3 separate regions of the Homo sapiens genome follow, and regions 1 and 3 are each linked to region 2. The links come from fine-mapping of genetic effects on gene expression. A gene starts in region 2. Each other region holds a variant in brackets. All regions are shown on one strand. Distances are between the middles of the regions.

Region 1 (8,238 bases), 53 kb before region 2:
CAAATTCAATGCAATTCCCATCAAGATACCATCATCAGGCTGGATACAGTGGCTCACACCTGTAATCCCAGCACTTTGGGAGGCCAGGCAGGTAGATCACTTCAGGTCAGTAGTTCGAGACCAGCCTGGACAACATGGCAAAACCCTGTCTCTACTAAAAAATGCAAAAGTTAGCCAGGTGTGGTGGTGCATACCTGTAATCACAGCTACTTTGGAGGCTGAGGCACAAGAATTACTTGAACCTGGGAGGCACAGATTGCAGTGAGCCAATATCACACCACTGCACTCCAGCCTGGACGACAGAGCAAGACTCTGTCTCAAAAAAACAAAAAGGTCATCATTCTTCACAGAAATAGAAAAAATTCTAAAATTCGTATGGAACCAAAAAAGATCGTGCATAGCCAAAGCAAGACTAAGCAAAAAGAACAAATCTGGAGGTATCACATTACCCAGCTTCCAACTATATTACAAGGCTATAGTTACCAAAACAGCATAGTACTCGTATAAGAATAGGCAGGCAGGGCCGGATGCAGTGGCTCAAGCCTGAAATCCCAGCACTTTGGGAGGCCGAGGCGGGTGGATCACTTGAGGTCAGGAGTTCAAGACCAGCCTGGTCAACATAGTGAAACCTCGTCTCTACTAAAAATACAAAAATTAGCTGCGCATGGCGGTAGATGCCTGTAATCCCACCTACTCAGGAGGCTGAGGCAGGAGAATCACTTGAACCTGGGAGGCGGAGGTTCCAATGAGCCGGGATTGTGCCACTGTGCTCCAACCTGGGTGACAGAGTGAGGCAGGTACCCCAATGGAACAGAATAGAGAACCCAGAAATAAGGCCAAATATGTACAGACAACTGATCTTCAACAACACAAATAAAAACATAAAGTGGGGAAAGGACACCCTGTTCAACAAATGGTGCTGGGATAATTGGCAAGCCACATGTAGAACAATGAAGCTGGATCCTCATCTCTCACCGTATACAAAAATCAACTCAAGATGGATCAAAGACTTAAATCTAAGACCTGAAACCAGAAAAATTCTAGAAGATAAATCAGAAAAACTCTTCTAGACATTGTCTTAGGCAAAGAGATCATGACCAAGAATCCAAAAGCAAATAAAACAAAAACTAAGATAAATACATGGGACCTAATTAAACAAAAAGTCTTCTGTACAGCAAAGGAAATAATCAGCAGAGTAAACAGACAAGTCATAGAGTAGGAGAAAATATTCACAGACTATGCATCCAGCAATGGACTAATATCCAAAATCTTCAAGAACTCAAACATATCAGCAAGAAAAAAAAACAACTAATCCCATCCAAAAGTGGGCTAAGGACATGAATAGACAATTCTCAAAAGAAGATATCCATATGGCCAACAAACATGAAAAAATCCTCAACATCACTAATTCTCAGAGGAATGCAAACCAAAACCACAATGAGATGCCCCATACCTTACTCCTGCAAGAATGACCATAATTCAGAAATAAAAAAATAACAGATGTTGGCATGGATGTAGTAAAAAAGAACACTTTTATACTGCTGGTGGGAATCCCACTTACTGGGTATCTACCCAGAGGTAAAGGAGTCATTATATGAAAAAGACACTTGTGCAGGCATGTTTATAGCCACACAATCCACAGTTCCCAAAATACAAAAATATGGAACCAGCCTAAATGCCCATCAACCAACTAGTGGATAAAGAAAAATGGTATATATATACCATGGACTACTACTCAGCCATAAAAAGGAATGAAATAGCATCCACAACAACCTGGATGGAGTTGGAGACCATTATTCTAAGTGAAATAACTCTCAGGAATGGAAAACCAAACATTATATCTTCTCACTTATAAGCAGGAGCTGAGCTATGAAGATGCAAAGGGATAAGAGCAATATAATGGAATTGGGGACCTGGGGGAAGGGTGGAAGAGGGTGAGGGATAAAAGACTACACATTGGGTACAGTGTACAATGCTAAGGTAATGGGTGCACCAAAATCTCAGCAGTCACCACTAAACAACTTTTCCATGTGACCAAACACTACCTATTCCCCAAAAACTTTTGAAATTAAGACAAAAATTTAAAAATAATATTAATTCTTGGCCACGCACAGTGGCTCATGCCTGTAATCCCAGCACTTTGGGAGGCTGAGGCAGGTGGATGACTTGAGGTCAGGAGTTCGAGACCAGGCTGGCCAACACGGTGAAGACCCATCTATACCAAAAATACAAAAATTAGCTGGGTGTGGTAGCTCATGCCTGTAGTCCCAGCTACTCAGGAGGCTGACGCAGGAGAATCACTTGAACCCAGAAAGCAGAGATTGCAGTAAGCCAAGATCATGCTACTGTACTCCAGCCTGGGCAACAGAGCAAGACTCCATCTCAAAAATAAATAAAAATAAAAATAAATGAATTCATGAGCAATATCCTACAAGCAACCAAAGCAAAATGGAAAAATAGGATCATATCAAGTTAAAAGCTTTTGCACAGTAAAAGAAACAACAAAGTCAAGACAACCCACAGAATGGGAGAAAATATTTGCAAACTACCCATCTGACAAGGGATTAACAACCAGAATATTAGGAAAAGGTGTAGTAATCAAAATTAAAAATGGGCAAAAGATTTGAACAGACATTTCTCGAAAGGCAACATACAGATGGCAAACAGGCATATCAAAAAGTGTTCATCAATGATCATCAGAGAAATGCAAATCAAAACTACAGTGAGATATTACCTCACTGCAGTTATAATCGCTTATATCTAAAAGGCAGTAACAAACGCTGGCAAGGATGTGGAGAAAAGGGAACCCTTGAACACTGTTGGTGAGAATGTATATTAGTACAACCACTATGGAGAACAGTTTGGCAGTTCCTCAAAAATAAAAATTGAGCTACCACATGATCCAGCAATCCCACTGCTGGTATCTACCCAAAAGAAGGGAAATCAGGATATTGAAGAGATATCTGCAATCCTGTGTTTGTTGCAGCACTGTTCACAATAGCTAAGCTTTGGAAGCAACCTAAGTGTTCATCAGCAGATGAATGGATAAAGAAAATGTGGAACATATACAGAATGGGGTACCACTCAGCCATAAAAAAGAATGAAATCCAGTAATTTGGAACAACATGGATGAACTGGAGATGATTATGTTAAGTGAAATAAGCCAGACACAGACAAACATCGCATGTTCTCACTTATTTGTGGGATCTAAACTCAAACAATTGAACTCATGGACACAGAGAGGAGAAGGATGGTTGCCAGAGGCTGGGAAGGGTAGTGGCGGGGGGAGAGTATGGTTAATGGGGAAAAAAAAAAAAAGAATTTTAGTGAATGAATAAGACTTACTATTTGATAGCACTAACAACAGGGTGGACTATATAGTCAATAATAACTGTACATTTTAAAATAACTAAAAGAGTGTGATTGGATTGTTTGTAAAACAAAGGATAAATGCTTGGGATGGAGACACCATTCTCCATGATGTGAAATAATCATCATGCCTGTATCAAAACATCTCATGTACCCCATAAATATACACACCTATTATCTATGTACCTACAAAAAAATTTTTAAAAGCTAGATGATGCCCAAATTAGCCAGAATAAAGTAGATAGTTCAATTTGGATATAAATCATGAGAGCAGTCATAACAATGGTGAAATCATTTGGGGAGGATTTCTCATCCCATTTCCATCTCCTGCCTCTATAATCATTTCATCCTGTTTCTGCCCCCAAACTGAGTTTACCTCTCAAAAAATTTCCAATGACTGGTCTCAGGTACACCCTAGAGGTCATTGCCAGTTTTCAGTATCACAGCTGCCCTGGGATGACTGTTGGGGTTTGAAAAGCCTTTTCTGCCAGCAGCTTCTAAAAAGTAAAGTTGTCTTTGTCAGGAAAGCCTAAACAAGATCAGAACTAGATTATATGGTACACCAAATCAGGCATATGTTTTGACATCATTGTTCTTAACATCAGTGACCTATTTAAAAGTTAATAGAACATGAACAGAGGTGGCCACATGACGGCTATCTAAATGTGAATTCCTGCTTTGCTAAGACTAATTGCAGCCAAACATAAGGAGCAAAGTGGAACTAACACAAGGTGGATTGCCTTAAAATTTACTCTTTTTAATAGTTTAAGAATACCTATGAGCCACGCGCAAAAGAATGAAGTTGGATCCTTATCTCACACCATATACAAAAAATAACTCAAAATGTATTAAAGACCAAATGTAAGAACAAAAACTACAAAACTCTTAGAAAAAAATATAGGGGCAAGTTTTCAGGGGCAAATACAGATGCTTCTCAAAATTATGATGAGGTTACATTCTGATAAACTCATTGTAAGTTGAAAACAAATAAAAAATACACACCATAGAGTATCAGTTGTTGACCCCTATGATCGCATGGCTGACTGAGAGCTGTGCCTCACTGCTCTATACATCTTGAGAGATTATCATACCCCATATTGTTAGCCTAGGAAAAGATTAAAAAATTCAAAATTTCAATTATAGTTTCTACTGAATGTGTCCTGCTTTCACACCATCTGTAAAGTTGAAAAATTGTAAGTTGAACTGTTGTAAATCAGGGACCATCAGTATACGATGTGGCAAAGGGTTCTTGGGTATGACACCAGAACACGAGCAACAAAAGATAAATACAGTGGACAAAAGTAAAAGCTTTTGTGCTTCAAAGGATACCAATCAAGAAAGTGAAAAGACAGCTACAGAATGAGAGAAAATATGTGCAAATCATATACCTGACAAGGGACTTAAGAGTATATTTAAAACATATAAAGAACTCTTACAATTCAATAATAAAAAGACAACCCAGTTTAAAAATGGAC[A/G]AAGGATGTGAACAGACATTTCTCCAAAGAGGATATACAAATGACCACTAAGCACACAAAAAGATCCTCGACAAACTTAGTCATCAGAGAAATATACATCAGAAGCCAAAAGGAGATATCATTTAATACACATTATGATATCTAGAATCAAAAAGTCAGATAACAAGTGCTAGGAGCGTGGAGGAATCAGAACCTTCATACACTGCTGGTGAGAATGTAAAATGGTGCTGTCTCTGTGGAAAATAGTCTGGCAGTTTTTCAGAAAGTGACACTCAGAAATACCATATGACCCAGCAATTCCACTCCTAAGAATATACCCGAGAGAAATGAAAACATATGTTCACACAGAAACTTATACACAAATGTTTATAACAGCCTTATTCATCATAGCCAAATGGTGGAAATGACCCAAATGTCCACTCATATCCACAAATGGTTTCCTTAAATGTGTCCTTTTTATCATTTCAAACTTCTTGATGTGGGTCAAGAAGTTTGAAATTATAGTCCAGGCACAGTGGCTCACACCTGTAATCCCAGCACTTTGGGAGGCCAAGGCAGGTGGATCGCCTGAGTTCAGGAGTTCAAGACCAGCCTGGCCAACATAATGAAACCCCATCTCTACTAAAAATACAAAAATTAGCCAGGCGTGGTAGCAGGCACCTGTAATCCCAGCTATTTGGGAGTCTGAGGCAGGGGAATCGCTTGAACCCAGGAGGCAGAGGTTGCAGTGAGCTGAGATCACCCCACTCCACTCCAGCCTGGGTGACAGAGCCAGACTCTGTATCCAAATAAACAAACAAACAAAAAAAGCTTGAAATGAAATGATAAAAAGGAAACATTTAAGAAAAACTTAAAATTCCTTAAAACCAGTGATGTCATACAGCGATAAAAACATATCACCTATTAGATGGCCGAATAGGAACAGCTCCAGTCTGCAGCTCCCAGCGAGATCGACACAGAAGGTGGGTGATTTCTGCATTTCCAACTGAGGTACCTGGTTCTTCTCACTGGGACTGCTTGGACGGTGGGTGCAGCTCACGGAGGGTGAGCCGAAGCAGGGTGGGGTGTCGCCTCGATCGAGAAGTGCAAGGAGTCAGGGAATTTTCTCCCCTACCCAAGGGAAGCCATGAGGGACTGAACCTGAGGAACTGTGCACTCCGGCCCAGATACTGCACTTTTCCGACAGTCTTCACAACCCGCAGACCAGGAGATTCCCTCTGGTGCCTACCTCTCCAGGGCCCTAGGTTTCAAGCACAAAACTGGGCGGCCATTTGGGCAGACACTGAACCAGCTGCAGGAGGTTTTTTGTTTTTTTTTTTTTCCCCATACCCCAGTGGCATCTGGAACGCCAGTGAGACAGAACCATTCACTCCCCTGGAAAGGGGGCTGAAGCCAGGGAGCCAAGTAGTCTGGCTCGGTAGGTCCCACCCCAACGGAGCCCAGCAAACTAAGATCCACTGGTTTGAAATCCTCGCTGCCAGCACAGAAGCAGTCTGAGGTCGACCTGGGACACTCAAGCTTGGTGTGGGGAGGGACATCCGCCATTGCTGAGGCTTGAGTAGGTGGTTTTACCCTCACAGTGTAAACAAAGCCGCTGGGAAGTTCAAACTGGGCAGAGCCCATGGCAGCTCAGCAAGGCCACTGTGGCCAGACTGCCAGATTTCTCCTCTCTGGGCAGGGCATCTCTGAAAAAAAGGCAGCAGCCCCAGTCAGGGACTTATAGATAAAACCCCCATCTCCCTGGGACAGAGCACTTGGGGGAAGGGGCAGCTGTGGGCACAGCTTCAGCAGACTTAAATGTGCCTGCCTGATGGCTCTGAAGAGAGAAGGAGATCTCTCAGCACAGCGTTCAGGCTCTGCTAAGGGTCAGACTGCCGCCTTCAGTGGGTCGATGACCCCCATGTATCCTGACTGGGAGATACCTCCCAGTAGGGGCTGACAGACACCTCATACAGGAGAGCTCTGGCTGGCATCTGGCAGGTGCCCCTCTGGGACAAAGCTTCCAGAGGAAAGAACAGGCAGCAATCTTTGCTGTTCTGCAGCCTCCGCTGGTGATACCCAGGCAAACAGGGTCTGGAGTGGACCTCCTGCAAACTCCAGCAGACCTGCAGCAGAGGGGTCCGACTGTTAGAAGGAAAACTAACAAACAGAAAGGAAGAGCATGTCCACTCAGAGACCCCATCCGAAGGTCACCAACATCAAAGACCAAAGGTAGATAAATCCACAAAGATAGGGAGAAACCAGCACAAAAAGGCTGAAAATTCCAAAAACCAGAATGCCACTTCTCCTCCAAAGGATCACAACTCCTCGCCAGCAAGGGAACAAAACTGGACAGAGAATGAGTTTGATGAACTGACAGAAGTACGCTTCAGAAGGTGGGTAATAATAAACTCCTCCGAGCTAAAGAAGCATGTTCTAACCCAATGCAAGGAAGCTAAGAACCTTGAAAAAAGGTTAGATGAATTGCTACCTAGAATAACCACTTTAGAGGAGAATATAAATGACCTGATGGAGCTGAAAAACATAGCACAAGAACTTCGTGAAGCATACACAAGTATCAAGAGCCAAATCGATCAAGTGGAAGAAAGGATATGAGATTGAAGATCAACTTAATGATACAAAGCAAGAAGACAAGATTAGAGAAAAAAGAATAAAAAGGAATGAACAAAGCCTCCAAGAAACATGGAACTATGTGAAAAGACCAAATCTACATTTGATTGGTGTACCTGAAAGTGATGGGGAGAATGGAACCAAGTTGGAAAACACTCTTCAGGATATTATCCAGGAGAACTTCTCCAACCTAGCAAGACAGGCCAACATTCAAATTCAGGAAATACAGAGAACACCACAAAGATACTCCTTAAGAAGGGCAAGACACATAATCGTCAGACACATAATCGTCAGATTCACCTAGGTTGAAATGAAGGAAAAAATGTTAAGGGCAGCTAGACAGAAAGGTCGGGTTACCCACAAAGGGAAGCCCATCAGACAAAGAGCAGCTGTCTCTGCAGAAACCCTACAAGCCAAAAGAGAGTGGGGGCCAATATTCAACATTCTTAAAGAAAAAAATTTTCAACCCAGAATTTCATATCCAGCCAAACTAAGCTTCATAAGTAAAGGAGAAATAAAATCCATTATAGACAAGCAAATGCTGAGAGACTTTGTCACCACCAGGCCTGCCTTACAAGACCTCCTGAAGGAAGCACTAAATATGGAAAGGAACAACCAGTACCAGCCACTGCAAAAACATATCAAATTGTAAAGCCCGTCAACACTATAAAGAAGCTGCATCAACTAATGGGCAAAATAATCAGCTAACATCATAATGTCAGGATCAAATTCACACATAACAATATTAACCTTAAATGTAAATGGGCTAAATGCCCCCATTAAA
Region 2 (8,238 bases):
ATACTCGGGAGGCTGAGGCAGGAGAATCGCTTGAATCCAGGAGGCAGAGGTTGCAGTGAACCCAGATCACCACAAAGCAAGGCTCTATCTCAAAAAATAAAATAAAAAGAGGTTTCACATACTGTACATAAAAGACAAACCTCACACTCAGACAGCACAGATGTGTGTTGAATCCCAGCTCCACCATGCACTGACAGTGTGACCTTGAGCAAGTCATCTACGACCTCTCAGCCTCAGTTTCCTCCTCTGGAAAATGGGGACAATACCGGTACTTTCTTCAGAGAGTTCTGGTAAAAATAAATATAACCAATTGCTTAGAAGTGTGCTTTCTTGGCCGGGTGCGGTGGCTCACACCTGTAATCCCAGCACTTTGGGAGGCCGAGGTGGACAGATCACAAGGTCAAGAGATCAAGACCATCCTGGTCAACATGGTGAAACACTGTCTCTACTAAAAATACAAAACTTAGCTGGGCATAGTGGCACACACCTGTAGTCCCAGCTACTTAGGAGGCTGAGGTAGGAGAATCATTTGAACCCGGGAGGCGGAGGCTGCAGTGAGCCGAGATCGAAAGTATGCTTTCTTAAACATACTTCTTAATTGTTAGCTGTCAGCCCCTTCTCCAAAAATCTCATTTACTTGGTCTGAGATGGGGGCCCAAGCAACAGTCATTCTTAAAGCTCCCCACTTTAGGTAATTCCAATGGTTTGTGTAAGAGAAAGAGGGGGTGAGCGGGAGAGGAGGAGAAGGGAGGCAGAGCTGGGTTGGCGACAAAAGGCTTTATAACTCCCCAGAAGTATCACAGTTTTGTCACTAAGCCAGAAATGGCTTTGTTCTGCCAGGCTCTGAGATGCCAGCACTCAGAGATGGAGACATGCCACCTTCTCCAGCCAGCCACCCTGTGCCCTCAGGCGAAAAGCCTTTGCTGTGGTGCCCGCAGACCTGGGAGATATAAAGAGTACAGGGCCGTGACTTTGGGCCCCTGGGCCGGAGTGGCTCTGTCTGCCTGGTCACTGTTTCCCTTGCTCAGCATTTACTCACCAACCAGCAGATGGTGCAGAAAATGTGCAGCCCGGCCCCTAATCCGGCTCTAAGTTCAGAATTTGCATGTGATTACCAGAGAGCTGTGGCAGTTCCCTGCATTTTCCTCTTCCCCCACTGCCCCCCAAAAAGGGGACAAATATAAAGAGCTCAACGTGCAATACCACCATTGTCACAGTTCTTAGGGTAACATCACCTCACCTGTCTTTTGCATCTTGCTAGAACCACCTCATTTCAATTACAAAACCCAAGTGTCTGTGCAATGCAGCCGACTGCCTGAACTGGTTTGCAGGTTTAAAGGTTGTACTTGGACAGGCAATACGCATTACTCTCCGACCGGAAAATATGCTGATGCGCTGGACTTACAAGAAGTCTGAGTGTAGACCCATTTTTAAAAGATTATACTATCTACAAAATATCACATATGCTATTTTTTAGCCAAAAGTACTTCTTCCATATTTTCAGTCAGTGGCTTCCACTGTACCAGAGCAATCCTTTTCCTACTTTGTTTTTTTTGTTTGTTTGTTCGTTTGTTTTTTTGAGACAGGATCTAGCTCTGTCACCCAGGCTGGAGTGCAGTGGTTCAATCTCTGCTCACTGCAACCTCCGCCTCCCGGGCTCCGCCTCCCACCTCAGCCTCCTGAGTAGCTGGAACTACAGGCGGGCACTACCACACCCAGCTAATTTTTGTACATTTTGTAGAGAGGAAGTTTCGCCATGTTGCCCAGGCCGGTCTCAAACTCAGGGACACAAGCGATCCTCCCGCCTCCGCCTCCACAATGCTGGGATGACAGGCATGCGCCACCGCATACGGCCTCTTTCTTTTTTTAAATAAGTGACTTTTTCTCAAAAAAAAAAAAAAAGACACTTAAAAGGAATGAGATGCCTGCTTGCACAGGGTTTCTGCCCATCCGACAGTTCTGAAATTACCCTCACCAGGTGACACCGTTGACGCCTTCCCCTTCGGCAGAGTCCTAGTGAAAATGGACATCTTAGTGCTTGGAAAGCTAATGGGAATCAGAGATGATGATGACGATGATGACGGCGGCACCGCGTTATTAAACCTTTGTGCAACGCTATACAAAGTATTTGCAAAGTGCTCAACAATTACTGCACTTTCATTAAGTCAACCATCAGCAGTAAAGCAGCAGCCAAGTTAATTCACATACTCTCCCATTAGCTTATTTAATAATATGCCCCATAAAGTGATTTTTGTGTGGCTGTAAAAGAGCCCCAGTCAGCTTTTATGGCCTTTTCTTGGGGCCTCTCAGATGAGCTCAGACAGTAACTCTGATGAGCGGCAGCAGCTCGGAGCTGGGTGTTACCCCAGCCTGCTGTTTAGCAATCCGGTGGAATGAGTTAGTAAGCCGCAGTTCTGTAGAGCTCCTAAGCCGGAGGTTCAAAACATCTCATCAAAACCAACATGGTCTCACCCTGCCAACGCTCAAAACAGCAGTGTCAGGCCCAAATCTGGAGGCCAACGTGCAGAAGACCTTTCCAGGCCGGGAGTTAGGTGCCTGGGGAGGCAGGGCAAATTCTAGAGTTCAGGCCTCCCTTGGGGGCACACCTTCCATCCGTACTAACTGGCGTGTGCAGGCGCTGCTGCTTCGCGCTGCGCACGGAGAAGCGCCCCGAATCCACCGCACGATGCGGAGCCAGGGGCAGCGAGTGAGCGGCGGCCTCCAGCCCTCCCCTGCCTTCTCCTTGCCCCTTTTGGGAATGGCAGGGGGTTTCCTATGACAAATGCCCGCAAACAGGACAGGGTTCGGACGACCCCAGAGCCGGCGCCTTCTCCCTACACTCTCAGCCCTAGGGCCGGACCCGCCCCCGCGGCTGCCATCGCCCCTGCCTCGGGCGCCCCGCGGGGACCACCCCGCCAGGTGAGCGCCTCCAGGAGCCTCTCTGAAACTCACCTGCGTGAAGTACAAGTTCATCAGCGTGAGGGTGAAAAACTGCAGGCACACAGGGAAGCAGTAGAGCAGCCAGAAGACGAAGGGGCTGAGCGAATTGGCCGCCACGAAGTCTTTGAAGTAGAAGGAGAAGAGGACGGTCCGCAGGGAGGCCCAGAAGAGGCAGAGAAAGAGGAAGACGCTCTGGTAGCTGAGCCGCTTGTGGCGGTAACGCAGCACCAGCCAGAGCTGCACGTAGATGAACACGAAGAGCAGCGCGTAGAACACGGTGTAGACGACGGTGAGGCCAAGCTTCACGTAGGGGGGCACGGCCGGGGTCAGCGTGGGCGGCAGCGAGTCGTTGCGGGCTGGGTCCCACGGCGGGGTCTCCATCGGGCCGGGGGCGCTGCCGCGCGGCCGGGGACGCTCGGGCCTCATCGGGGCTCACGGCCGCCGCCGCCCCCGCGGGGGTCTCCGCGCATCGCGCTCAGCCTGCAGCCCCGAGACTGGAGGAAAGAAAACAAGCCGCACTTCCTCCCCCGGCACCACATGATTCACTGGGACGGCCTTTGTCTGCGATTGGCAGCGCCGCGCCCGCCGCCCCCGCGCGCCGACCGGCCCCGCGCGCCCCCGCCCCGGCCCGCGCGCCCCCGCCCCGGCCCGCGCGCCCCGGCCCGCCCTCCCCCGGGCACCGCGCGCCTTCGCCCCGCGAACCCCGGCCCGCCCTATCCTCGCCACCGCGCGCTCCCGCAGTGCGCGCCCCCAGAGCCGCACGCCTCCTCCCGGCCCCCTCCCCATCCCCGGGGCCGCGCGCTCCCAGACTGCGGGCCCCCAGAGCCCCGCGTCTCTTCCCCCCTTCCCGCCCCCTCCCCATCCCAGGGGCCGCGCGCTACCCGTCCCCGGCCCCTTCCCCATCCCCGGGGCCGCGCGCTCCCGCACTGCGCGCCCCCAGAACCGCGCGCCTCCTCCCCGGTCCCGGCACCGCGCCGCGCGCCCCCAAAACTTCCCAGCCGCGCCCCGCGCCTCGGGGGATCGCACTCGTGGCCTCGCGCATTCTGCTGCTGATTGCTTGTTTTGCAGAAGTTAATTCCTTTATTTAAAAACAAATTTAAAAAAAAAACTTTACAAGTCCTTTCCGTCCCCCCCTTTAAAAATAAAACTTTACGACTCTGTGGCTATGAACTGGCCGGCGTCTGGAATGATGTTTATTTCTAAATGCAGACATGCCAAAGACAGGGTTCGTATTTTTGAGGTCAAATTTGTATACTGAGTGAGGAAATAGACGGTGCCTGCGGCTGCTGCCTCCTCTGGGATGCAAGCTGGGCTGTTTTCTCCCGGAGAGCCTCACGCGCTCCCAGCGCCTCACCTCCCAGCGATGTAGCCGGTGCCGGGAGGCGCGCGGGCCGCGGGTCAGTGGATGGAGCCCACTGGGCTTCAGAGAGAAGTGGGGCAGCTGACGGCACACGGCCCCCCTTGTCCGATCCAACCCATGCCGAAGGAGGGTCTGTCCCCGCCACCCGAGAGCCCTTCTCTTTTGCTTTTGCTGAGCAGCTCGCTCCTCGAGGCTGTACAGCGACTTAGTCTTTGCCCCGGGGCACCACGCCACCCTTGTCTTGGGAGAGCTGGGGAGTGCTCTGGGAAAAGAGGGAAAGCCGGGCGCCCTCTGGAAACATTGCTGGGCAAGCGGTTCTGGTAAACAGAAGAAACTCGGATTTCCGAGGCTCCAGTAATTGTGATTTCTTTTCTTACTCCACTTCGTGCCTAATTGTGTGTTCTTTTTCCAAAAGACGGCCTGGCATATCCAGAATCCACCCTAGCTTTTGCTCAGAATTACTTAGTGGTTACAGCGCTCCCAGCGTATTCCAGGTGGTTCACTGGGGCCAAGTGTGCCTTTGGCGTGGAGCTCCTTTTCCAGTTTTTCTATCCTTTCCCTCTCTCCCTATCGCTATTTCAAGAGGAAATACGGAATTGGGCTCCACGCCTCTGATCTCGTTCCCCTCAATCCCCGTTCTGAACAGCGCAAGTGGAATGATGGAATGATCGCTCTAAAGAACACCTGGCCACTTTACTCCCGTGCTTAAATGCCCTTCCCTTGCTCCTCATAGTTCTGGGGTTAGAGTCTAAACTCCTACCCTAGCTTACCTCCCTGCCTTATCTCTTCCAAGGTGTTAAGCAGTGTTAACACCTCCTGACTCCCCTAGACTAAGAAAATTCTGCCCTTTCCTCCAACAGCTGGTCCTTCCTAGCTATCCATGAGGGTGTAACTTCCTGCAGAGAGCCTCTCCAGAACTCTCCACCCACCAAACTCTCAGGATTAGGCTAGGTGTTTCACCTGTGTGCTTCCCTAATATCCTTGCCTGATTGTTAGTTTCCCCCGCAACACACTTATTTATGTGTCCTTATGATAGAAACTAGGCTTGTTTACCAGTCTCTCCCCTGGCACATTGGAAAAGCATCCGTATACATTTTATTACACTGAAGGAATATTGTTTGTCAACAGAGGTCCAGACTCTGATATTTCTCCCTCCAGTGTGCATGGATTCTACCTCATGATCCAGGAGGGCTACTGGCTCTCCAGACATTGAGTCCACATCCCAGGCCAGCGTTAGGAGGAACAGGGGAAGACTAAAGAGCACTTGTTTTCTCCTGTTTCTGGAGCCTTCCCAGAAAGACCACATAATGCATCCACTTTTAGCTCATTGCTAGGACTTAATTACCCTAGCAAGCTGGCTACAAGAGATTGGGAAACGTAGTTTTAGTCCACGTGGCATTGTACACAGCTGAAAGCCATGGTTCTGTAATTATGGATGAAGGGGCGAATGGATTTAGGAAAAACTAGCATCTTTATCATGACTTCAAAGCAGACAAAAAGAATGCCAGATGGCTACAACAGTTCACCTCTTTGACTACCTAGTGTCAAATGTTTCTTATCATCTTTACAATTCTGAAAATACAATAAAGATGCTCCCACTTAATAACCCTTGTACAATTGAAAAGCATTCCAAGCCAGGTGCTCACACCTGTAATCCCAGCACTTTGGGAGGCCAAGGCAGGTGGATCAACTGAAGTCAGGAGTTCGAGACCAGCCTGGCCAACCAAGTGAAACCCTGTTTCTACTAAAAATACAAAAATTAGCCGGGTGTGGTGGCACATGCCTGTAATCCCAGCTACTAGGGAGGCTGAGGCACAAGAATCGCTGGAACCCAGGAGGCGGAGGTTGCAGTGAGCTGAGATTACGCCACTGAGCTCCAGCCTGGGCCACAGAGTGAGACTCCATCAGGAAGGAAGGAAGGGAAGAAAGGGAAGGAAGGGAAGGAAGGAGGGAGGGAGGGGAAAAAAGGAAGGAAGGAGAAAGGAAGGAAGGAAGGAAGGAAGGAAGGAAGGAAGGAAGGAAGGAAGGAAGAAAACAGAAAAACACATTCCCTCTTTCCCCCAAAAGGATCATCATTTTCTGTGTCCAGCTCCAAGCCCAGGAGCTCTGGGTGATAGCCATTCCTCCAATTCTGTCACCATCTCATCTCAACATTCTGTATCTTACGGACTAAATTATTAAGTTATCCATCACTAGTTTGTCCTGTATAAAATAGTAGAAGAAAAAAATGTAAAGGAAAGGAGAATTCATTATTAGGTTGGCGCCAAAGTAATTGTGGCTTTTTGCAATTAAAAGTAATGACAAAAACCACAATTACTTTTGCATCAATTTATAAAATACATACATATGACACAGCAAGAAAAAAATATAAGTTAGAGTTGTTGTTTTTCTGACTGGTCATAAAGCTGTAATTGCTCTCCTTAATGGACGTTACAAAATTTCCCTTTCCCTTCATCAGGGATCTCAGCTAGTCAGGGGTAGCCCTGATTTCTGAGGAATCTAAGCTTGTTAATGTTTGCCACTGGACATGCCAGCAGCAAGAGGCACTACCATGATTGAATTCTGTCTATTCACCTTTTATTGCTCATCATATAACAGCAACTCTACTTCCTCTTAATAGTTACTGTCATCACAGCCAACACCATCATACTATTTTTTACAATTCACCCACTGGCATGAGGAGTCTGAAATAGCCAGGGTCTCAACTTTTATTTCACTTAAACCACACTTGAATCTCCTGGGGTAGAAGAGTTCCTCCTTGGTTACTAAGACCTTCAAACTAGCCAAGCCTAGAGGCGAAGGAACGGGAAACAAAAAAATTTGCAAGTAAGTCACTGAGTGTTAGTGAAAGGTGCCATTCTCTTGGTTCCTGTAGCCATGTATCCTGACTGCAGGACAAATAGCACGATATGTCAGCTTTGGGTTCAGAAGAAATTCTATATATTATAGGACACCAATGCTACCTTTCTGTGCATTGTTGTCCTGCAGGCACAATAACTAAGCCTACAATTGGTCATTCCACCACTGGATAAGGCCAGCTGCTACTTGAGGGACAGAAATTAGCCTACCACGTTTCTTCTTTTAGTATAAAGTGAGGTCCTTGGTCAGAGCAATATTGTATAGGATACCATGATGATGAGCAATGCATTCAGAAAGTCCCGGGACAATAACGCAGGCACAGGAGGCAAAGAAAGTCAGTCCAAGTTCAGAAACATTGTCTATTACAGCAAGGACAAATTGCTGATATCCTACGTGATTAAAGAGGTCTATATAATCTGCTTTCAGGTGGCTGTCTAGGACTTCCCCTGAGTTTGAAACCTCTTGAAAGGCTCAGAGTTGGCTGGCGATACTCATGAAAAGCCAGGTCAGCCTTGGTGGGGAAGTCCAGATTGTTACAAAATGGATCAGTCAGTCCCTGCCTGCATGGTCACTGTGTCCATGAGCCCATTGAATAAGCAGTGGGCTAACTGGGGACAGAAGATGTCTTCCATACCCAGGGCAGGTAGACATGTCCACCTGAATGCTGAGAGCCTCCAGTAGAGCTGGGTGTTTTGGGGAACCTGACTTGGTGGCTTGATGGATCAAAATAACATGCAGCTCAAGACGGGCAGCTCAGACTCCATGGTAATCTGCCTTCTTGATGAGACATTCAGTCTCTTCCACAGCCCAGGAGCAAGCCATCTCTTTCTCTCAAAAGAAAAATAGTTATTTGACAAATAAGGCATGTATGTGTTCCCAAACCCTTATAACTGACACTGTGATTCTCCTAACAGGGCTTGTCACAGGTAATGTACACCTCTCCAATCTGCCATTGACACTTTGAGCACCGTTAGATCCACGGAGTCATGGATGACAAAACAGATGGCATTGCAGCCTGAACCAAATGGAGCATCTCCTCTGCCTTGAGCCCCTTCTCAAAATTAGCTCCCTTTTGAGAC
Region 3 (8,238 bases), 24 kb after region 2:
AGTGAAAATAACCCAGAAACAACCACAGAGTGCTTTAGAGAGTCATGGGATATGGCCGGGCATGGTGGCTCACGCCTGTAATCCCAGCATTTTGGGAGGCTGAGGCGGGTGGATCACCTGAGGTCAGGAGTTCAAGACCACCCTGGGCAACATGGTGAAACCCCATCTCTACTAATAATACAAAAATTAGCTGGGCATGGTGGCGCGTGCCTGTAATCCCAGCTACTCGGGAGGCTGAGGCAGGAGAATCGCTTGAACCCGGGAGGCAGAGGCTGTGGTGAGCCGAGGTCGTGCCGCTGCACTCCAGCCTGGGCAACAACAGCAAACTCCATCTCCAAAACAACAACAACAAAAAAGAGTCTTGGGTTAGGGGAGGAAAGAAGGAGAGATGCAACCAGGTGTGATTGATTTAGCAGGTGGAAAAGTGGGGAAGGCCTACCAGGCAGAGAATCGAGGTGGGTAGACTAGTCTCGTGGAGACAGACCATGGTCCTGGAGTCATTGATGTTGAATCCCAGCTCCTCCGTGTGCCCGCTGGGTGACACTGGGCAAGTTATTTTTTCTGTCCAAACTTCAGTCTTCTAATCTGGAAATCAAGTTATGTTTTCTACTTCTTATGTGGCTGCAAACATTAAATGAAGTAAGATGAATGTAGGATTTTGGAGAACGAAATGCCTGTGGCCCACAGCTGCCTACGATGTAGGGGTGGCACATCTCCCGGGGGGCGAAGCTGGGTGAATTTCCAGTGTCAGCTGCAACCACCAGCTCAGCCTCCTGCTTAGTAACCATCTTTACGACTACAGACAGCAGTCCTCATCTCTGCCCCCTAATTAGCAGTCCTAACTAAGTGATAGGTGGGTTTGGTGGAAACCACACACAACTACCGAGGAAACCAGCTGGGTTTGTCAAAGGAAACCAATCTCCCTGTCCCTCTCCGTGCCCCTCTCTGTTCCCCTCTCCCTCCCCACTTCTCTTCCCTTTCCTTCTCTGCAGTGACCTAGGATCTCACTCAGTACAGCCGGCTTTCAAAGAACTCTAGGCAGAATCGCTCTCTCCTCGATGAGTCAAATCTAAGGCCATTTATCTCAACCCGTAACGTGAAAATAGTGAAAATCAAGAGTGAAACAGAAGTTGTTTCCTCTCGAGAATCAAGAGTGAAACGAAAGTTATATTTCCTCTAGAGAATCAAGAGTGAAATGGAAGTTGTTTCCTCTAGAGAAGCCCCTTGAATAACTTGGACATTTCTATCAGCAACCGTCTTCTAGAATCAGGTCACAATCAAGGGTGAGGGGAGAAGTCTGTGATTCCCAGCACCATGAGAGGATGCAGCCACCACTTTGATACCTTGGAAAATGTGGATCAGTTTAATCTGAAAAATGTTGAACAATCTTCAAACACAGATGTCCCCACTTTCTGGATTTTCGGGTTGAAAGAGATGGAAAATACTCCTTTGTTTTACACCTGAAGGCTGCTGGGCCTTCTGAGATCTGCTAGTCAGCGGCAGATGTAGAAAAAACCAGGACTCAAGTTTTCTGATGCAGAGATGTCTTTCAGCCGCACCGCTCTGCCTGTGTCTCGGTCTGGTGTGGGCTCATCTAAAGCAGCAAGCTCTCGTAGACTGTGATCCGGAGGCGGGAAGCATCCCCCTCTCCACCCTCCTTAAAATGCCTCCCCCTAAGAAGTCTTTCTACTCCAGTCCAGGATTACAACACTTACTTTATTTCCTTTATTTTCTTAGGACCATGCAGAGACTGCGTACATTTCCTCTAAGGCTTTGTCACCCCGTGAGGTCCCTCAGTAGAAAGGATGTTTACATAGTGGGAAGGGTCAGAACTTTCCAAGACCTGATGTCCAGTCCTTACTCTGCCCCTTACTGATTTTCACTCCATCGAGACAATGATCTCTTTTCTAGAGCAGCGCACATTTATTTATTCATTGTCCAAATATAAGGTACACTAAGCACTGAGACATAAAGAGGACAAGCAAGACCTCCCCGACGCCCCTACCCCTGCTTCCAGGACCTTGCTCTGTTGTGGAGACAGATGGGCACACGGGCAACTACATCATATGTTCTAGGATAAAGCGACCATGTATGCAGAGACAGGGAGGCATGAGGCAGCCTGGGCTTCCAGCACTGGGACTGCAGACGGTTCTACTGCAGACTGTAAAGGGGTGGAGTGGGATGGGGATATTGTTAGAGGTCACCAGGGGCCAGATGACAAGGGACATCCTATATCTAACTAAAGAGGTTAGATGTTATCATGTCAGCTCAGGCCGCCCTTGTAGACTTGAGGGCAGGATCACACTTTCCTGGTAGAAAGATCGTAGTTGTCTAATTAGCAAGGCCAGAGGCAGGCAAACCAGGCAAGTGCTTATTGAAACGTTGCAGGGAGTGAGGATGAGTTCCTGAGGCAGGAGAAGGAGAAGCCTGAAGAAAAGAACCTGCTTGAGTCCAGGAGTTCGAGACCAGCCTGGGCAACATAGCGAGACCCTGTCTCTATCTAAAAAATAAAATAAAATAAAAAGGGGAGACTAATTTAAAAACATGAAAAGAGGCCGGGTGGTAGCTCACGCCTGTAATCCCAGCTACTTGAGAGGCTGAGGCAGGAAAATCGCTTGAGCCAGGGAGGTGGAGGTTGCAGTGAGCCGAGATCACGCCATTGCACTCCAGCCTGGGTGACAGAGCGAGACTCCGTCTCAAAACATAAAAACATGAAAAGGGGCCAGGCACAGTGGCTTACGCCTGTAATCCCAGCACTTTGGGAGGCCGAGGCCCGCAGATCAACTGAGGTCAGGAGTTCAAGGCCAGCCTGGCCAATGTGGTGAAACCCCATCTCTTACTAAAAATACAAAAATTTAGCCTGGCGGGTTGGTGAGCGCTTGTAATCCCAGCTACTCGGGAGACTGAGGCAGGAGAATTACTTGAACCAGGGAGGTGGAGGTTGCAGTGAGCCGAGACCTACCCCTTACTGATTTTCACTCCATTGAGACAATGATCTCTTTTCTAGAGCAGCGCACATTTATTTATTCATTGTCCAAATATAAGGTACACTAAGCACTGAGACATAAAGAGGACAAGCAAGACCTCCCCCACGCCCCCGACCTCTGCTTCCAGGACCTTGCTCTGTTGTGGAGACAGATGGGCACACAGGCAGCTACATCATAAGTTCTAGGATAAAGCAACTGCTGTCCAGCCTAGGAAACAGAGCGAGACTCCGTCTCAAAACAACAAAAAGAAACAAAACAATCAAACAGAAAAACATGAAAAGAAAAGGACAAGAAAACACCCAAGAATTAGTAGTAGGAAACTCAAGACAGAGAGTATTATGGAAACCTGGGGAGGAGATAATTTCTAAGAGAGATTGGAAAACAAGATTGTCAAATGCTGCAGACCAGAAACAAGACAAGACCAGGAAGCAGCCCATGAAACTCAGCCCCCAGGAGGCCTTTGACAGCCTGAAGGGAGTCAGTTCCAGGACAGCCACGGGCAAAAGCCAGAGTGCAAGTGTTAAAGAGAAAACACAAAAGCAAGGTAAGGAAGAAAGCCTCAGTTTCCTCACCTGACGATGAGGACGGCAATAAAATGTTATGAGACTATGGATTCAAAAGCTTCAAAAGCTTACCCACGGATGATTAAGAAGTTCCGGAGCTGGATGGTGGTGACAGTTGCAACGACATCGTGAAGGGACTTAAAGGCACTGGATTTTACACTTAAAATGATTTAAATAATACATTTTGCCTTATGTATATCACCCCACTGAATTGTACACTTAAAATGATTTAAATGATACATTTTGTCTTATGTATATTTTACTGCAATTTTTAAAGGGGAAGAAAAGCTTACAGAAAATGGCAGTGTTCTGTGCAGGTGTTGTTTATTTATTTAGAAGGCTAAG[A/G]AGGAGAGCTCGTGCTGAAAGCTTGGGAGAGGTAAGGGGCTGAATGATCAGGAGTTTCAGGTGTGGGGAAAGCGCAGAGGAAAGGAGGCCACACCCCGCTCAGGTAACAGGTCCAGGCTGATCCCTGATAGGTGTCGTAAGATATCAGAGTCAGAACTGACTGTGGCCCCGCAATCGAAGTGTCTTATTTTGCCAGGGAGGCTAAAGGGAGAAGGGGAGGCAGCGACTTCTCAGAAGCAGCACCGCCATCCTCACCTAGGTATAGGGTCCTCTGAGGACCAAATGAGAAACTGCTTGTGAAAACCCTGGGTGAAATACTGCATACTAGAGGATCAGGAGGTAGACTACCATCAGCGTCCCCCGACCTTACAATGTTGCATTGTAGTAATTAATACAATATGAAATCATTTTTATGTTATTGAGAAGAATTTGGAAAATATAGAAAACCATGGAATAAAATTAAAAATAATCATTGTTGGCCAGGCGCAATGGCTCACACCTGTAATCCCAGCACTTTGGGAGGCCGAGGTGGGCGGATCATGAGGTCTAGGAGTTTGAGACCAGCCTGGCCAATATGGTGAAACCCCGTCTCTACTAAAAATACAAAAATTACCCGGACGAGGTGGCTCGTGCCTGAAGTCCCAGCTACTCGGGAGGCTGAAGCAGAAGAATCACTTGAACCCGGGAGATGGAGGTTGCAGTGAGCCGAGATGGTGCCACTGCACTCCAGCCTGAGTGACAGAGCGAGACTCCATCTCAAAAATAAAAAATAACCATTGTCTCTCAACTTGACACTTTTTTTTTTCTTTCTGGAGACAGGGTCCTGCTCTTTTGCCCAGGCTGGAGTGCAGTGGTGAAATCATGACTCACTGCAAACTCTGCCTCCTGGGCTCAAGCAATCCTCCCACTGCAGCCTCCCTAGTAGCTGGAATCACAGGTGTGCACCATCATATCTGGCTAATTTTTATAGTTTTTGTAGAGACAAGGTTTTGCCATGTTGCTCAGGCTGGTATCGAGCCCCTGGGCTCAAGCGATTTGCCCACCTCGGCCTCGAAAAGTGTTGGGATTACAGGCATGAGCCACCCTGCCTGGCCATGATAACCTGAACAATTTGATAATGTGACTTTCAAATAACTTTTCTTATTATAGCTTCATACTCATATTCATATTCATAATTAAAAATCTGGAAAATACAGAAAAGTATAAAGAAGCAGATATGCATTCCTGGTAACCCCACAGTTTATATGTATTATACCAGACTTACTGATAGTCTTTCTGTAAATGCCCTTTTAAAAATTATGGTATATTGGCCAAGTGTGGTGGATTATGCCTGCAATCCCAGCACTTAGGGAGGCTGAGGTGGGTGGATCACCTGAGGTCAGGACTTCGAGACCAGCCTGACCAATATGGTGAAACCCCATCTCTACTAAATACAAAACATTAGCCAGGTGTGGTAGTGCATGCCTGTAATCCCAGCTACTCAGGAGGCTGAGGCAGAAGAATCGCTTGAACCTGGGAAGCAGAGGTTGCAGAGAGCCGAGATGACACCATTGCACTCCAGCCTGGGCAACAAGAGCAAAACTCCATCTCAAACAAACAAACAAACAAAAACAGTATATTTTACATAACCTATTCCTTCCACTAAATATAGCATGAATATTTTCTCATATTATGGAATATTCTTTTAAAACATTATTGTAAATGACTATATAGTATACCATCTTGCACATGTAAAATTCTTATAAAGAGTTGTTTTAAGTTTTCAAGAGACAAATGAAATATATTTGCTTTTTAAAATTAATTATAATGGTTCCATGCAGCACACATAGGAAAATTCAGAAACAGAAAAAAACCGGAGCTGGGTGCGGTGGCTCACACCTGTAATCCTAGCACTTTGGGAGGCCAAGGTGGGCAGATCACCTAAGGTTGGGAGTTCGAGACCAGCCTGACCAACATGGAGAAACCCCGTCTCAACTAAAAATACAAAAATTAACCAGACCTGGTGGCACATGCCTGTAATCCCAGCTACTTGGGAGGCCGAGGCAGGAGAATCGCTTGAACCCAAGAGGCGGTGGTTGTGCTGAGCCAAGATCACGCCATTGCACTCCAGCCGGGGAAACAAGAGCGAAACTCCGTCTCCAAAAAAAAAAAAAAAGAAAGAAAAAGAAAAGAAAAAGAAAAAACCCCACTTGCAATCCTACCTTTTTTTTTTTAAATGCATGTCTTATTCTATACACAAATCAACACACACGTATATATGCCTTTTTTTTTTTTCTCTGAGATGGAGTTCTGCTCTTGTTGCCCAGGCTGGAATGCAATGGCACAATCTTGGCTCACTGCAACCTCCATCTCCCAGGTTCAAGTGATTCTCCTGCCTCAGCCTCCCGAGTAGCTGGGATTACAGGCACCCACCACCACACCTGGCTAATTTTTGTATTTTTAGTAGAGACGGGGTTTCTCCATGTTGGTTAGACTGGTCTCAAACTCCCGATCTCAGGTGATCCACGTACCTTGGCCTCCCAAAGGCCTCCCAAAGTGAGCCACCACACCCGGCCTATGTATATATACCTTTTAAATTTTTTACTTATAAATCTATTCTGAACATTTTCTTAAATCAATAAAATTCTATAGAACAATTATTTATTTATTTATTTAGAGACATGATCTCACTTTGACACCCAGAATGGAGTGCAGTGGCACCATCACGGCTCACTGTAGCCTCGACCTCACTGGGCTCAGGTGATCTTCCCACCTCACCTTCCTGAGTAACTTGGGCTGCAGGTGTGCACCATCATACCTGGCTAATTTTTATATTTTTTGTAGAGATGGGGTTTTGTCATATTGCCCAGGTTGGTCTTGAACTCCTGGGCTCAAGCAATCTGCCCACCTTAGCTTCCCAAAGTGCTGGGATTACAGGCATGTGCCACCACACCTGGTTAATGTATTTAATTTTTTTTTTTTTTTTGTAGAGACACAGTCTCATTGTGTTCCCCCAGGCTAGTCCTGGCTTCAACTGATCCTCCCGCCTCAGCCTCCCAAAGTGCTGGGGTAACAGGCGTGAGCCCCAGCTCCCAGCCTTCACTGACATTCTGATTAGCAAGCTGGCTTTCCCCTACCCCTGCATTCCAACATGGCGTCCACTCTCTAATCCTCCCACCATCTACCCATTTTCCTTTGAATTAGACGGATGCTTAATAACTTCTCTAGGATACGGTTAGTGACAAGATAAATAACGCCCTTCGGATGGAATTGGCCACACCCTGAAAATCTAAGTCAGTAACATTTAGCAAACACTTATAAAACTCCTCTGATGTTCATAACATTTCATGAAATGTTGGATGTACAAATATTAACATGATATGCCCCCCACCCTCAGGAGGTGCTCAGTCAGTGGGGAATGTGGACACACAGGTGGGTTGTCTGGGGCAGAGTCTGTGCACTGAGCTGAAGGCATGCCGCGCCATCTGCCTGAGTTCTCCCCATTTAGAAATATTTGCGGTTGCACATTGCTCTGAATGATACGTGATGGGAAAAGAACTGGGTGTGAGGCATACAGCAGGAAAACAGATTGAGCAGCTTGGACAGCACATCAGGACGGGGCACTGAGACCTGTCCTGTGTGATCCTTTATATAGAAACAACAATAATAATACCTAGCAACTCTTTCACTCCTAAAGATAATCAGTGCCCAAAGCCCATCCCTTCCTCTGCCCTTGCTCAGTCCCTTGTAGGTGCTGTGCTCCCTCCTGCCCCAGGGCCTTTGCACAGGCCACATCCTGCCCAGAACCTGCTTCCTGACCTCTTTGACTGGATAAGATTTTCTCAAGCTGCAGATCTTGGCTCAAATATCACTTCCCCAAATGATGTAGGGGAAATATATATATCAATATATCTTTTGTGTTCCCCCAAAAGATATTTTGAAGTCCCAACCCTGCCCCCCGCTGTAGCTGTGAAAGTGACCTTATTTGGAAATGGGGTCTTTGCAGATATAATCAAGGTAAGATGAGGTCATGCTGGAGTAGGAACCCTACATCCAATGACTGGTGTTTGTATAAAGGAAAGATATGTTTGGACACAGACAGAGATAGAGGGGAGAAGTTCCTGTGACACCAAAGGCAGAGACTGGAGTGACACATCTACAAGCCAAGGAATCCCAAGGGCTGCCAGCAATGCCAGATGCTGGGAAAGGGCCGGGAAGGAGCCTCCCCCAGGGCCTCCAGAGGGTGCACGGCCCTGCCTAACCTCAATCTCGATCTTCCAGCCTCCAGAACTGTGAGAATAAAATCCTGTTGTTTCAAGCCCCTCAGTTTGTGGTACTTTGTCATGACAGTGCTGGGAAACTAA

Evidence for each region. PIP is the estimated chance that this variant, and not a neighbour inherited with it, causes the effect.
Region 1: its variant is the best candidate, but not a certain one, in a credible set for the expression of GPR137B in whole blood (TOPMed, PIP 0.59).
Region 3: its variant is the best candidate, but not a certain one, in a credible set for the expression of GPR137B in whole blood (INTERVAL, PIP 0.50).

Annotation. Positions count from the first base shown.
Region 1 is chr1:236,190,304-236,198,541 of GRCh38, reverse strand. The region is part of intron 5 of GPR137B (G protein-coupled receptor 137B); the gene reads right to left. Among named protein-coding and RNA genes, the nearest start is that of GPR137B, 52 kb to the right of the region's middle. The variant A/G (reference allele first, on the strand shown) is at 4,845.
Region 2 is chr1:236,137,751-236,145,988 of GRCh38, reverse strand. It overlaps GPR137B (G protein-coupled receptor 137B), which reads right to left and starts at 3,450. Exons shown (of 7, transcript NM_003272.4): 1 at 2,953-3,450. The coding sequence starts at 3,366. RefSeq lists an enhancer at 2,723-3,226 and silencers at 3,192-3,461, 3,532-3,711.
Region 3 is chr1:236,113,668-236,121,905 of GRCh38, reverse strand. No RefSeq gene overlaps it. Among named protein-coding and RNA genes, the nearest start is that of GPR137B, 25 kb to the left of the region's middle. RefSeq lists an enhancer at 1,109-1,228. The variant A/G (reference allele first, on the strand shown) is at 3,896.